Linked DNA regions of Homo sapiens: region 1 is linked to region 2. The links come from fine-mapping of genetic effects on gene expression. A gene starts in region 2. The other region holds a variant in brackets. All regions are shown on one strand. Distances are between the middles of the regions.

Region 1 (8,337 bases), 950 kb before region 2:
CTCTATAAAACCTCCTTAGCCTACTTTTTGAGAGTATTATGGCATGACCAGGCACAGTGGCATGTGCCTGTAGCCCCAGCTACGCAGGAAGCTGAGCCAGGAGGATCGTTTGAGCCCAAGAGTTGGAGGCCAGCCTGGGTAACACAGCAAGACCCCATCTCTAAAAAAAGGAGTGGTGGTGGGGGAAGAGAGAGAGAGGGAGAGAGAGAAAATGAATGAATATGAATTATGCTTGGAAGCTTGTTTTTACAGATATTATGTTGGGGGTTTGGGGACTGGGTTATACTTAATTCCATGACCTTAGGGGTAAACAGCATAATTATTTTATTGATGTTCTCTCTCCTTCATCTCTTCTTTAAAACTGTCACCAAATTCTGGTTTTTTTTTTTTTTTTTTTTTGGCTTGGTGGTTTCTCTCCAGATTGACCCTTCCTTGCTATCCTCAGGGCCATCTATCTTAATCCACATCCTCATTTCCTATCTCACCTATAGCAAGGGCAACAGTTTAACTGGGTTTCCTTGTTTTCAGTGTTCTATTCCTTCCATCTAGTCTATAGGAAGTCATTACACTGATCTTCTAAACTCCCACTTCCATCACACTAAAACACTGCTTAAGATGTTCAACGATTCTTCCTTTAATAAAGAGATTGGATTCCTCCCCTTGCTGGTACTTAAGCCCTGAGTAATTTTTCCTATTCAACTTCCAATGTCTTCCTCCTTCCTTCACCATCCACCAAGTGGATCTCAGCACTGTGGTACATGAACATATTTCTGGACTTTCTGTTTCACCTCAACACTTACACCATTCCCTTCCGGACACAGCATCTCAAGGCCTCTGTCATATCCAAATCCTACCATTCCTTCAAGATCTCTTCCATGAGGCCTTTCCAAAGGACTTCTTCTCCTTCCTGATCCATTTTGGCTCTTATATATACTGTTAGGTGGGTTCCTCTTTGTTTTATCATCTTTGCTGGGTTTTTTACTAGTTACTGAAAGCATTCACTTTCTCAGGTACCATACAACACTCAGCACAGAACGCGCAGTATCACTGAGCAGCAAATACCTATATACGAACCCAATTTCTCTATGTCATAACCCAGTATATTACAAATTCTGAATGAGACATCCAAGAAAGAAATACATGTTTACCAATATATACATACTTATGTATGTGCACATATACATGCACACACCTAATTAAAACAAAAGTTTTGTAAAATACTACTTATCTTTACTACACACAATGTAACTGTATTTACAGCTACCTAATTTTCTGGACAACTGGATATTAGAAATTATAATTACCTTTGTTAATTTTATTATGTAGAAAAAGTCCTTGTTTGCAGATACATATTAGAAACAAAGTGCCCTGGCCGGGCGCGGTGGCTCATGACTGTAATCCCAACACTTTGGGAGGCTGAGGCGGGCAGATCACTTGAGGCCAGGCTTTCGAGACCAGGCTGGCCAACATGGTGAAAGCCCATCTCTACCAAAAATACAAAAATTAGCTGGGCATGATGGTAGATGCCTGTAATCCCAGCTACTCAGGGGATTGCTGAGGCATGAGAATCACTTGAACCTGGGAGGCGGAGATTGCAGTGACCCGAGATCATGCCATTACACTCACTACACTCCAGCCTGGGCAACAGAGTGAGGCTGTGTCTCAAAAAACAAAAAAGAAGGCTGGGCGCAGTGACTCATTCCTGTAATCCCAACATTGTGGGGGGGCGAGGTGGGTGGATCACATGAGGTCAGGAGTTTGAGACCAGCCTGGCCAACCCTATCTCTACTAAAAAATTGGCTGAGCATGGTGGTGCACACCTGTAATGCCAGCTAATTGGGGAGGTTGAGACAGGAGAATTGCTTGAACCCGGGAGGCAGAGGTTGCAGTGAACCAAGATTATGCCACTGCACTCCAGCCTGGGTGACAGAGTGAGACCTGGTCTCAAAAAAAAAAAAAAAAAAAAAAAAAAAAGAGAAGAAAAAAGAAAGGGACCTGGTGTCTGTATATCACTTACTTTTAACAGGTTACAAACACAAACAAAGAAAATAAGAACATTTTAAATTGTTGAATCTGGGTAAGGTAGATGAGTATTTGCTGTGATGTTCCTTCTGCTTTTCCATATAAGAATATAAAGTGATAGTTGTTACTCATCAAATTTATTTCATGACCATAATCCTGTTTGAAAAACAGTGTGTTATAATTAGAAAAAAGACAAGCCACTTGTCCCTGTGTTTGTTAATCATACTTAAGGAAGGCTCTAACATTCTGAAGAACGTTCTGTGGTTACTTCCTGGCCTATAAAGGATTTAATGTTCCATTGCTGAGTCTACTAATCTCTCCTTCAAAATCCTTTCTACAAAACTTCTGTGAATCATTACGACCTTAGCAGAAAGGTATAAGATTAGGGATTGGTTTTTTAGTTGCAGAGATCACAGACTCAGAACTTACCCTAAGACCTCGCATACTGAGAACAATCCTTGTGGTTTTCACAGGGCTTTAAAATAACTAAATCTAGGAACATCAAAAGTTTAAGACAGTGCGCTAAAGCTGAAAGTACCATAGCAAACATGTGCACTGGTTACATTTTCCCCTTCCTTTTCCTTTAAGAATAGGTTTTAATAAAAGACGAAGTTCCATGAACGGTCAGTAACATCTCATTTAATTGACACTAAGGGAAGTATTCTAGATGAGTGAATGAAACTTGTAGATAACTGAAACTCCAAGTCTTGCTAATTAGAGATTTCTAGATTTTCTTCTTTCTTTTAATTTCTTTTAGAGACAAGGTCTTGCTCTGTTGCCCAGGCTGGCTTCCAACTCCGGGGCTCCAGTGATCTTCCTCAGCATCCCAAGTAACCGAGGCTACAGGAGTGCACCATCATGCCCAGGTGGATTTCTAAATTTCCAAGATTGTTTTCCTGTTGACTATGGACATCCACATAATCAAGTTTGAATTGTGACACAGCAACAGTGACCTCAAGAAGACAACTGAACTAGATCACTCGGGGGACCTGGGATCCAATTAACCTTAGGTCCTCGTAAAGAAGCAAGGTGGCTGAACTCTGCAAACTCTAAGGGCCTTGCAGCTCTCATATGCAGCAGTTCTGTTACTATTAGGTCTGTAAGGCTGGCATCCTGCACGCAAAATGCCAATAGCCTTGTTCATAAAATTATTAGCACAGACCAACTGACACAAACTGAGTATTACTCTTTATAATGAATCTTATTTTTTATTTTTTTGAGACAGAGTCTTGCTCTGTCACCCAGGCTGGAGTGCAGTGGCGCAATCTCGGTTCACCGCAACCTCTGCCTCCCAGGCTCAAACAATTCTCATGCCTCAGCTTCCCGAGTACCTGGGATTACAGACGTGCACCACCACGCCTGGCTAATTTTTTTATTTTTAGTAGAGATGGGGTTTTGCCATCTTGTATTTTAGTACAGACGGGGTTTTGCCATCTTGGCCAGGGTGGTCTTGAACTCCTGGCCTCATGTGATCTGCCTGCCTTGGTCTCCCAAAATGCTGGTATTATGGGCATGAGCCATCCCTTTATAATGAATCTTATTTACCAAAATAAAATTTAATAAGCAACAAGTCGTTAAAAACCATATGCAACAAAAGGAATGAAAAATTGTTCAACACACAACCCAGACAAATCTCACGTGTGTAATACTTAATGAAAGAAGCCACACACAAAAATGTGATGGTGTATGATTAGC[G/A]TGCTGCGGAGGTGAGAAGAGTGGTTACCCTTTGCGGGGAAGTAGGGGTACGGAGAATGATTCACCAGTAGGTGGCACCAGGGAGCACTGGGGTGCTAACAACATTGATCCAGGTGGCAGTCACTCAGGACATACACATAGGTAAAAATTATCCAACTGTACATTTAAGATGTATACACTTTACTGTAAGTGAAACCTCAAAAAAGTAATAAGATGCAAAAAAACTTAGATAACAAAAATGCAGGAGCTGTCAAAACTATTATCTTTATAGTACCTGTAACATTACAAATGCACAATGAATAAATGTTAACATACAGTATTGCTCAATTCTAGCAAGAAAAAAAACCACTTAAATTTCATTAGCATGTCAACCTGTAATGCATTTTGTCAGCTCTTTAACATTTTTAAAGTTTCCCAAACTTTCATGACACTGTCTCATAAATATTTGTTTTTAGAATACTAAAGAGCCAATGAAAAAGAGCAGAAATCCACACGTGTACTACTAGCAAGGCATTAATATCTGTGGTTTAACTGAATACATCAGATTTAGACATAAAAATATGCAATTTAGAATTCTGCAAAATGCAGCAAAATCCTAATACCATGTTGATCCAGATTGCTAATGCCTTGTTTTATTACATAATAGTCATTTAGAAAGCCAATGTTTCTCAATGAGGCTGAATTTAACTAAAAGCACACAAAGTACAATTAGGGCTTGCTTACTTAGACCAAATTGTTTTTATGATAGCTAATGGAACTGATTAATTTAGGTTGCAAACCAAGCCCCCTAAAATACAGAATTGCTACTTGAAAATGTTTTTCTGGGCATCTTTTGTGAACTAAGTCCTGTGCTGAAAGAACTGGAGTCAGAGAAATATGATAAGCTCTGCCCTAAGAGGTCACTCTTGGGGCAGGGAGGCGTACAGAATTAAAAAATGTAACAAGGCCAGGCACAGTGGCTCACTCCTGTAATCCCAGCACTCTGGGGACCGAGGCAGGAGGATTACTTGAACCCAGCAGTTTGAGACCAGCTAGGGCACAATAGTGAGACCCCATCTCTACCAAAAAAAAAAAAAAAAAATGCTGCGTGTGGTAGTGTCTGTGGTCCCAGCTACTTGAGAGGCTGAGGTGGGAGGATTTCTTGAGCCTAAGAGGTCAAGTCTGCAGTGGGCCATGATTGTGCCATTGCACTTCAGCCTAAGTGACAGAGTGAGACTTCATCTCAAAAAAAAAAAAAAAAAAAAAGAAGTAATAAGTACTATAGGAACCAAGGGGAGGAAATAAGCAGGGGGCTTCAATGAGAAGCTTCTGAGAAGGTGATAATTGACTTAGAGGCAGCTCAAAAATCTGCTGAGAGCCTAGCAAGGAGCACATTGTATCTGCAGAAGGAAAAACTAGAATATGTATTTAGGAAACTAAAAGTTGGAGTGTCTAAAATTGAGAATGGCTAAATGGGTCATTCTAAATCAAGGCATGATTGAGGGCTGGGGTGAAAAAGAGGTGCATGGCAAGCATTCCTAAAGGGAGGCGGCACAAGGCTCAGAAGAACACCGACAACCTGCAACAGGCTCTGCAAACCATGCTAGGCTAGACACCTGACCATGCAGACAAGGGGAAGCCAGGAATTTTAAAGCAGGTGGTGTTTTTATAATCATGAAAATAAAATACGGAGACATAGAGAATTTGGAATATCAAAAAGAAAAGGAGGCTTATCTTAAATACAGATACTGTTTAGGTTCTTATTAATTTTTTAAAAATACAGCACTGTGACTATACTACACAGAGGGATTTTGGATTTAGTTCAGGTCACATAAGAATGGTTCATTCATGAATCTGTGTAATTGGTCATGACATGCGTATACACTTGTTGCATACCAACATTAAGTAAGCGTCTATCTGGGATGCTGGGATCATGTAATTTGGACTTTTCCTTTTTTTAAGCATCATTTGAAGCTAAGGATAGCTGAGTTCTTACCTAAAAGAACACTGTCCATCACATATGGAAAATCAGGCATTTTGCCTCATAAATACACAATTCATAATTTATTCCATCTCCACTCATCTCTCTTCTACAGGCTCAATACTATTCAAACTCCAATTATTATCACAGCCTTGGTACTTTCCATCGGGGGCTAGATAAAGAAGAGCAAAGTTTTCACCTACGATGAACAAAATGGCAGGACTTAAAGATGACTTTCCTGAAGAGTGCAATGCCTTCTGTCTTTTATTTATGGACTGAAAAGAGAAATCCCTCAATGTACACGGCAAATCACATTCCCCTCACTCTAAGCCATACTTACGGAAGACATCCCAGATTCTCCTGAATGCAGGAAAGTACCACGGTTACACCAATCTACTCCGTCAAACCAGGTACTAACTATGACTAAAATTATATGTGGAAAAAAAAAATCCAAATGAGATTAGTAACAGAAAACAAACAAACAAACAAAAAAACAAGTATGTGTGTAGGGGGGTGGATAGAAGGCAGTCTTGAAAGCGTCAATGCTAGACGCTTTTTTTCTCTTTACTGGGAATTGCAATCAACCAAACCATGGGTCTGTACCTGACCTAGAGCCTTTAACAATGCAACAAGACTGTGAGAACTCTCACTCAGGGACACCTGCTCTTAGCCTATTATGGAACTACTGCCTGTGTGCAGAAGTATCATTTGGAAACATGAATTTTATGCTCAAAGGGTAAAATGCCCAAGAGGCTTTACTCATGCCAAGTTCCCTAAGAACCATGGGGCTTCTTTTTGCCTTGGGAAAGGAGGTGAACTTTTTTCTTATTCTTTTTTTTTTTTTTTTGAGACAATCTCGCTCTGTCACCCAGGCTGGAGTGCAGTGGGGTGATCTCAGCTCACTGTAACCTCTGCCTCCCAGGTTCAAGTGATTCTCCTGTCTCAGCCTCCTGAGTATGTGGGACTACAGGTGTACACCACCATGCCTGGCTAATTTTTGTATTTTTAGTAGAGATGGGTATCGGGGGAACCAGCCCCAATATTTCAAAGTAGGTTCTATTTTCCCTAAGTGTCAGCCGGTCTGAGAAATAAAGAGAAAGAGTACAAAGAGAGGAATTTTACAGCTGGGCCTCTGGGGGTGACATCACATATTGGTAGGACCGTGATGACCCCGAGCTGCAAAACCAGCAAGTTTTTATTAGGGATTTTAAAAGGGGAGGGGGTGTACGAACAGGGCGTAGGTCACAAAGATCACATGCTTCAAAGGGCAATAAAGATCACAAGACAAAGGCAAAATTAGAATTACTGATGAGGGTCTATGTCCTGCTGTGCACGTACTGTCTTGATAAACATCTTAACAGGAAACAGGTGAGAGCAGAGAATTGGTCTGACCAAAATTTACCAGGCTGGAATTTCCCAATCCTAGTAAGCCTGAGGGTACTGCAGGAGACCAAGGTGTATTTCAGTCCTTATCTAAATTGCATAAGACAGACACTCCCAGAGTGGCCGTTTACAGACCTCCCCCCAGGAATGCATTCCTTCCGCACGGTATTCCTTGCTGGGAAAATAATTCAGCGATACCCTCTTACTTGCACATCCATTTATAGGCTCTCTGCAAGAAGAAAACTATGGCTCTATTCTGCCTGACCCCGCAGGCAGTCAGAACTTATGGTTATCTTCCCTTATTCCCTGAAAATCACTGTTATTCTGTTCTTTGTCAAGGTGCACTGATTTCATATTGTTCAAACACACGTTTTACAATCTATTGTACAATAGTGGTCCTGAGGTGACATACATTCTCAGCTTATGAAGATAACGGGATTAAGAGATTAAAGACAGGCATAAGAAATTACAAGAGTATTATTACAGAAGTGATAAATGTCCATGAAACCCTCACAATTTATGTTCAGAGATTGCAGTAAAGACAGGCATAAGAAATTATAAAAGTATTAATTTTGGGAACTTATAAATGTCCATGAAATCTTCACAATTTATGTTCTGCCCATGGTTCCAGGCGGTCTCTCCATTCGGGGTCCCTGACTTCCCGCAACAGATGGGGTTTCACCATGTTGGCCAGGCTGGTCTTGAACTGCTGACCTCAAGTGATCTTCCCACCTCAGCCTCCCAAAGTGCTGGGATTACAGGCATGAGCCACCGTGCCCAGCCTGAAAGAAGGTGAACTTAATTAGATGCCAAGGATTGCTAACTACATAACAGTATTTACAATGTGGTACCCTTGATTAATCTGACTCAGTCCACCTACCTTAATCAGCATTTCGAAATGTTAGGGGACCATCTGTTCATGAACTGAGAACATTATGAAGTCTCTCATTCAACTCAGGATATCACCCTGAACTTGATGAACTAAAATTTATTTGATTTCTATACTTTAATGACTCTGATGTCATTCATTGCTTTCAATGTTATGACTGATGTTTTAATAAGGCCATTGTAAATATACCATAAGTACCACAATCTCTGTGTCAGAGAAACACTTTGCTTGATTGCTTTTCTTCCTGGATAAACATGTAGTGAACAATCAGTGAATATATACTTCATATTATAGGATTGACTCAAAGAGTTCAATAATATCTAATCAGAGGCAAGGGTATGTTTATTAAGGGACACATCCTTCAAAGGAATCAAACTTTATATATAAA
Region 2 (8,337 bases):
GGGGTATGGTGTCTTACCTACTCTTAAATTTGAACGTATTAACAGGTTCCCCTCCGCGCACACTGACATATTTCTTATCCCCCATAATGAATTCAGCCATATGGCATTCTTTCCCATCGAAGGCCATCGGGAATGGCTTTAGGAAGCTGATTTTCAAGCTTTAAGCGGCAGCAGGTGCCGGCAGCGCGGGGACCGATCGATGGAGAGAAGGCGGGCAAGACGCCGGGAAGCGCATTCCTCCTCAACCGAGTGCCACAACCGCCCTCCCGAAGTGCCCCGGGGCTTCGAGCATCACCTCGCGGTAATCCGGGAGGGTGGAGGGATGCGGCTGGACCCGGGCGTTGCGTGCTCCACACAGCGCCCAGCCCGTGCCAGCCCCGCGCCCACCTCTCCACGACGCTCGTGCCGGGATCAGCGCGAAGCCCCTTCCAGTCCCCGAAGCCCTCGCCCGCGCCCGTTCTCCCCCAGCTCGCCCCCTCCAGCCCGCTGCGCCTTGCCGCAGCATCTCCGGGCACTCTGAGGCTGCCGCCGGGACAGGGTCGGAGCGCCGCAGAACCCACCGAAACTTCCCAGGGGGGCAATTCAAAATTCGCCGGACGCGTCGCCGCCGCGCGCCCCTCGGCTCATTCCCTTCCGCGCGCCCGCAGCCCCAGGCTCTCCCTCTCTCAGGACCCCCCAGCGCCCTGCGCGGCGAGAATAGGCCCCCAGGTGCCTCCCGGCCCCGGGGGCTGCCGTCGCACGTCCGCTCCCGCAGGGGTCCTCACTCCGCCAATCGCCGCGGCCGCGCGCCCTCGCGCACACTCACCAGCCCGAGCCGGGGCGGCCATCTTAGCGCTCACCCCGGCCCCCCGCCCCCCGGTTCGGCGGCCGCGACGACCCGGTGCGGCGGCTACGACAGCCGTGACGCGCAGCAGGCCCCGCCCCCTCCCACAGCCCCACCCCTGCGCCGGCTCTTCGCGGGCACCGAGAACCTGCCGGTGGCCGCCTTCCGCGCCTCGTGGGGGGGTCGGGGCCACGGACGGTCCCCGGCGCCGCAAGTGGGTCTGCGCGAACAACAAGCACTGCCTCCCCGGGCGGGCTTCGCACCTGTAGTGCCGTCGGGACACGGGAGGGTAAACCCAGCGTGTCCTGTGTGCCTGTGAGCCGCAGAATCATCCACGGACGTCGTTAGTCCTTCCTGGAATTTCTGCGATTTACACAACGTCGAATTGTTTGGCAGAAACGCGTGGCAAACTCCGTTATCTTTAAAACCTTCCCCAATTCACTGGCATAGAAATTCTTAAAGAAAACGTTTCCTTCTTGAAGCGACCCCTGGGTGTAACTTCAGTGGCGATGACGGCTGTGAATTGGGTTTTTTCGCACCGCAGAAGGGCGAGAGAGGTTCCAGAACGGGCACAGGAAGGGAACCGCTATCTAGAACTGCCTAACCCGAAATTGCCCATTTAAATAATGAAGTACATACCGAAAAGGAAAAGGAGGGGAAATCTGGAAAACAGGAAAGTCAAGGCTAAGGTACCTGAAAATTAACCCATTAATATTTATTGGATTCTTTGTGTTCAACTCTGAGCCAGATTGTTGTTTTTAACTGAACCTATACTCAATGACAAAGCAGTTCTACTTTGGCCACCCTGTGGAGTGTACTGAAAATTTAAAAACTCTCCAAGGAGAGCTTAAAAAGAAGACAAACATGCAAAGTTAACAATACATCAATGCAGTGCAAAATCTTGCAATATGTAAGACAAGGTATAAAATTGTTCCTATCTTTTCATCATCAGTTTTATTCTGGGGAGTATGTTTCAGTGGTATGACCTGAATAAAGAAATGAGTGCACAAAGGTATTCACAGCATATTATCCAAACACCGTAAAAGGCAAGAAGGAGCGGCACAGGATTCTAACTAACAGGAAATGGCTAATTAAGGTCTGACATAGAGGCCGGGCGCAGTGGCTCACGCCTGTAATCACAGCACTTTGGGAGGCCAAGGCGGGTGGATCACCTGAGGTCAGGAGTTCGAGAGCAGCCTGGCCAACATAGTGAAACCCTGTCTCTACTAAAAATACAAAAATTATCCGGGCCTGGTGGCGGGCACCTGTAATCCCAGCTACTCGGTAGGCTGAGACAGGACAATCGCTTGAACCCAGGAGGCGGAGGTTGTGGTGAGCCTAGATCCACAATTGCACTCAAGCCTGGGCAGCAACAAGAGCGAAACTCCGTCTCAGAAAAAAAAAAAAAAAAAAAAAATCTGATATAACACAGGAAGTTCTTATGTTAACAAAATAGATACAAAATAGCAACAATGTCTAATCAATTCATGTTTGAAAAAAATACCAAATATGTACATTAAGGTTACAACTGCATAAAATGTAGTCATGCAAATAAAGATTAAAGGGATGAATTTGCATAGTTTAATACTCATTTTGTTCTTTTTTCTATATATTTAAGTGCATAATAATTCTGATTCAATAATGACCCCAGTGCACTTCTCCCACTCAAAACATCTAACCTCTATGTTGTACTTTTGCCCACCACCTGAATTTCTCAAATGCATTAAAAGCATTACATGAGGGCATCTCTTAAGATGAAATATTTAAAATTTAAGTATTTCTGGCATGCAATATGGTTTTTCCTGTAATTCCTTGAAAGCAAAATATTAATAATAGAAAAATCAAAACTCTTGCTTTCCTATTATAATGCCATAAAACCATTCTGGAAGGTCGTTTGGGAGATAGGAAGAGTCTTAGTTGCCTCCCTCTGATCTAGTAATTGGGCGGGGTCTTTTAAGGACTAAAATGATGTGAATAAATGAAGAGAAAAAGTGAAATGGGAAGAAAAGCAAAGGCAAGCTGTGTAAGGCATAGGTGGAGAGTGCTGAATAGTGTCTTCAATAAAATGCCTTAATACAATGATGTAAGCTAGGAAGAGGTGCGGAGTGGGAAGGGAAGAGGCTGGAGACAAATTCTCATTACTAGTGTTAGTAATTAAAGAGCAGATGTTTGTAGTTTAGCTTTTTCTTCATACTTATTACTACTTATTCAACTTTGAAATTTCCTCAGCTACCATTTTATTCATGATCTTCACTATCTAGGCCTAAATTATAGCATGCTCTAGCTCATTTCCTGAGCTCCAGAACCTCTCTATTGCAATTTTATTTTTACATAGCAATCATAGTCATTCTTCTCCTTAAATTTTCCTATTTGTTTTTTAACCCGTCTCATCGAATCTAAGCTTTTTACTGTAACATTAAAAAAAAGAAAAGAAAAAAGCCTCCTTCCCTGCCCACCTTCATCAATGATGTCCCCAAACTTACCTATTAAAACCTCAAAATCAGTCTTTCCCCAGGTCGGCCTTTGGATAACTCAGAGGTCAGTCCCTGCAGGATCGCCCAGTTTCCATCAGGGCAAATGCTGATCTCCTAAGTGAAAAGTCCTGGCGGCTGCCTCCAGTGCCCCCCTGCAAATCATTACAAATCAACCTCTTTCAGGTTTGGCTTAAACTCTCACCTCCTGGAAACTGCTTTCCTGAAGTCACAAACCGGGCGTGCAGATCCCCATCCCCCACCCCCAGCAGTGCATTATTATGCAGTCACTGCTTTTGTTCCGAGTTCTGAGCCTGCTTCTATTTGCATCGTAACCTCTTTGGGGGCCGGGACTGTGCACTTGCTCCCTTTCTATACCTCTCCACAGTTCCTAGTACCGGCCAAAAACACTGCTGAAATGCCTAATGAATCAACCAGAAGTTCCTTAGCATAATATAGGAGCGTGGAAGTGATGTTTAGGGGGGCTTCCCTTGCTTCCCTGATCCCCAGATGGAGAGAAATGGCAATTTGCCCTTCCAAGGTAAGCAGTTTCCTAAACCAGATAAAATTTTAACGATTCTGAAACCTAATGGATGTGTAACTACTCAATTCTGAGTTACTACACAAACAGTTTTGCCCTTTGTATCCTGAGAGAAAAGTACGAATGAATTAAAAGAAGACAAAACATTGTAAATTTCATAAACCTCAGAGTGGCTTTTTATGCTTTATGTCGATTTTTAGAATTTCCTAGTCCAGTCTTTCATGAATCGAAGAATATTTCAGGAATCATAATTGCAGACTAAAGAATTTATGAGCTTGTGAAATTTTAGGAATCACTTTTAAGACTTTTCAGAGTTTTACAGACAATGCTCTTACCTAATAACTAATATTCGCTTAACATTTTTTTCAACACCTAAATGCCTGGCACCATGCTAAGCATTGAGATATTCATAGCATTCATTTCAATGGTTATGAGGAGATGAAGGATTGAGCAGAGGAAGTGGGTAAAGAAACGCTAAATAACTCAGCCATAAACTTTTGATTAAGGTGTAGCAACACACTTCAGTTGAACTTTTTAAATGAGAGGAACCCAAACGACCTTAAATTTCTGGCAAATATGAAAGAAAGGAGTTGAGAAAAAAGGAGTATGGAAAAAAGAGCAGCAGATGTAAGCTATGGCCTTAGTGGAGGAAAGTGAGTAGAAGGGGCTTTAGAATTCGCCTTTTTTCTTTAATTCTAAGAATGAGGTTGGTAGCAGGTAAGGAAGGTAAATGCCAGCTGAGTAGATGGTACCAAAGTTGATTTGTTTTTAAAAGACCATTGTTTATTTGGTGGTCTGTCAGGGAAACTTGTACCTTGCAGGTGAATTTCCAACATAGGCCTACTGGAAACTGAAACCCTGAGCCCCAGGGTTTAGGTATAAATGGAAGCAAAATTGTGAAGTGAGTCCATTTCTCCCCCTTTTTAAACATAAACATCCACTCCACCTCCACCCTATACTCAGTTTTTCTTTTCTTTTCTTTTCTTTTTTTTTTTTTTTTTGAGACAGAGTCTCGCTCTGTCACCCAGGTTGGAGTGCCGTGGCGTGATCTCGGCTCACTGCAACCTCCGCCTCCCGGGTTCAAGCAGTTCCCCTGCCTCAGCCTCCTGAGTACCTGGGATTACAGGTATGCACCACCACGCCTGGTTAATTTTTGTATTTTTAGTAGAGACGGGGTTTCACCATGTTGGTCAGGCTGGTCTCCAACTCCTGACCTCGTGATCTGCCCGCCTCGGCCTCCCCAGGTGCTGGGATTACAGGCGTGAGCCACCACGCCTGGCCCACTCTATACTCACTTTTACAGGGATCCTCAGGATGCTGTGTCCAGGGCTTTACTGCAGTCTGTCTCTCTTCCTTCCCATCAAAACTCTTCCCATTTTGTTCAGGACAGGTACACCAACCTTTCATTCTCTCTTTTTATTTATTTTTAAAATGGAGACAGGGTTTTGTCACCAGGCTGGAGTGCAGTAGCGTGATCATGGCTCACTGCAGCCTTGACCTCTCAGGCTCAAGCAATCTTCCCACCTCAGCTTCCTGTGTAACTGGGACCACAGGCATGCGACACAACTTCTGCTAATTGATTTTTTGTAGAGATGTGGGGGTGGAGGGGGGTTCTCCCTATGCTACCCAGGCTGGTCTCAAACTCCTGGCCTCAAGCAATCCTTGTGCCCCGGCCTCCCAAAGTGCTGGGGTTACGAGCATGAGCCACCATGCCTGGCCCCAACCTGTCATTATCTAAGGAGCTCAGTTATGAAGTAAAGTTATCTACTTTGTATTATTAGTGTTTAGTATTTTTTTTTCCATTTCTCTCTCAGACTGTTCTACCTCCTGTAGACACCCAGAGTTTGGAATTTCTAAAATGACATTTTAAACATTGTGACAGATCAGTGGGATAGATATTTTGCTAAGCCAAGGTACTTCCTTTCCAAGGATAAGCTATGGGAGGTGATGACAGCAGAATACACACACACACACACACACACAATACACGCAGACACACATATATATACTCATATGCACATATATAATTAGAACTCATTTAGCTATAATAACAATTTGTCCATCTAGTTATTTGCAATCCTTTCAGGATTTTTAAAATTTCTATCTCATTTGTAGAGTTTGGAAAATAGTATCTGTCCTATCTTCTTCACAATAATGTTTTAAGGACCAAATGAGGTTTTGTCCATGGAACCTGCCTAAACTGTAAGGAGAAAAGTCAGTGTGTTTATCATTATTTCTCTCTTAGGTTTACTATTACCCTGTAAAGTTCTTTGAAGTCAGAAACAGACTTTTGTTCATATTTACAACCCCTATAGCAATTAATACAGAACCTCACTCAGGATAGATAAGCAGTATTCCCTTAAATCAAGTTTTACTTCTGTACTAAAGTAATAGTCAATTCAAGGACAAGTGCTATAAAGGTTAAAATTAATTCTATTACTCTGAGAAACATGGCAATACTATTTTAGTCTTCCTCTCTCATAGTAGGGAGGGAAAGGATCTGGAAAGGCAGAGGGAGAGAGGGGGAGAAAAGAAAAGGCACTACAGGTGGAAATTTCAACTCTTAAAGTTTTAGTAAACCATGCCAAAAAGATACTAGTAACTTTTCATGAGGAAGAGATTATTGGGGTACCCAAGTTTTGTTTTTATACTCTATACATGTTTTTAAACCCATTTCTTTTTTTTAAAAAAAAATAATAGAATGAGGAAAGTGTAGATGGATAACTGTAGCTATTTGTATAATTATTTACATCTTGCCAAACCATTTGGAAATTGAAATCCTGCAGTGTCGCTCCTGGGTTGTAAAAGATAAGAAAAGTAAATAGAAGGCCCCCTTAATACAACGTGATATTGCATCATTTAAAAGAAACCACAAACTGTCTATTCAGGATGTATGCATACAATAAAAAGAGCTAACAATTCTTCATGTGTAAGAGCTAGGATGATCAACCTGCTTTTCTCTGCCATCTTAAGGTTGCTTCTTTTTAGGCCAAGGTACCTCGTGGTAGCAATCATTGATTTAGTCATCTGTAAATAGTGTTTGTAAGCCTCTTTTCCTTAGCTAACCAGTGATTAACTCCTAGAAAAACCACATTTTTTTTCCTGCCACCCAGGAGTGCAGTGGCGTGATCTCAGCTCACTGCAGCCTTGACCTACCAGGCTCAAGCAATCCTCACACCTGTGCCTCCCAAGTAGCTGGGACTACAGGCACATGCCACTACACCCAGCTAATTTTTGTATTTTTTGTAGAGATGGGGTTTCACTATGTTGTCCAGGCTGGTCTTGGACTCTTGAGCTCAAATGATCCACCCACCTGGACTTCCCAAAGTGCTGGGATTACAGGTGTGAGCCACTGCACCCAGCCTTGAAAACCACATTTCTGAGGGAAACTCTTTGGGGGAAGGGAGGTTGTGTGTAAGTTAGATAGTCCCTATCTATTTCATTTTATTTTTGGTTTTGAAATTAGTGTTTAAAGAATTAAGCATAATGAATACTTGATATTAATTTCTTGGATGTTTTTTGAGATGGAGTCTCACTCTTGTCACCCAGGCTGGAGTGCAATGACACAATCTCGGCTCACTGCAACCTTCGCCTCCTGGGTTCACGTGATTCTCCTGCCTCAGCCTCCTGAGTAGCTGAGATTACAGGCACCTGCCACCACACCCGGCTAATTTTTTTATTTTTAGTAGAGACGGGGTTTCACCATGTTGGCCAGACTGGTCGCAAACTCCTGACCTCAGGTGATTCACCCGCCTCGGCCTCCCAAAGTGCTGGAATTATAGGTGTGAGCCACTGTGTCTGGTCCTTGGATTTTTTTAAATGTCCTAAATATGCGGCTCCTAATCTTTAGAAAAATAATGAAGGATGAGCCAAGCATTGTAGGGGGGGGAAAAAAAGCTTGAAATATGACATGTAATGGGATGTTTTTCACAAGTATAAAGTTTTATTTTGTCTGTTTGGATGAAAACTCCAAAATGCCACAGGAATGATCACAGAAGGAAATTTATATAAATTTACCATTAAATGCCTATGAAATAATCTCTTCTTAAAAATCAATGGTAGTAATAAAGGATGACTTAAACATTTATTTGCTTATGCCCATAACATTGTATTAAATTTAAGATAAAAGAGCCGGGTGCAGTGGCTCACGCCTGTAATCCCAGCACTTTGGGAGGCTGAGGAAGGTGGATCACCTGAGGTCAGGAGTTCCAGACAAGCCTGGCCAACCTGGCGAAACACCGTCTCTACTAAAAATACAAAAATTAGCTGGGTGTGGTGGTGGGTGCTTGTAATCCCAGCTACTCGGAAGGCTGAGACAGGAAAATCACTTGAACCTGGGAGGCAGAGGTTGCAGTGAGCCGAGATCATGCTACTGTACTCCAGCCTGGGCGACAAGAGCAAAACTCTGTCTCAAAAAAAAAAAAAATTTTTTTAAGACAAAAATGTGGTCTTATCATTAGTCACAAAATTAAACTGTGTAAGACAATTATAATTCTGACTAG

Evidence for each region.
Region 1: its variant is fine-mapped to the expression of USP44 in fibroblasts (GTEx, PIP 0.96).

Annotation. Positions count from the first base shown.
Region 1 is chr12:94,599,863-94,608,199 of GRCh38, forward strand. All of the region lies in intron 1 of TMCC3 (transmembrane and coiled-coil domain family 3), which reads right to left. Among named protein-coding and RNA genes, the nearest start is that of MIR7844, 33 kb to the left of the region's middle. The variant G/A (reference allele first, on the strand shown) is at 3,718.
Region 2 is chr12:95,547,966-95,556,302 of GRCh38, forward strand. It overlaps USP44 (ubiquitin specific peptidase 44), which reads right to left and starts at 3,511. Exons shown (of 6, transcript NM_032147.5): 1 at 3,307-3,511.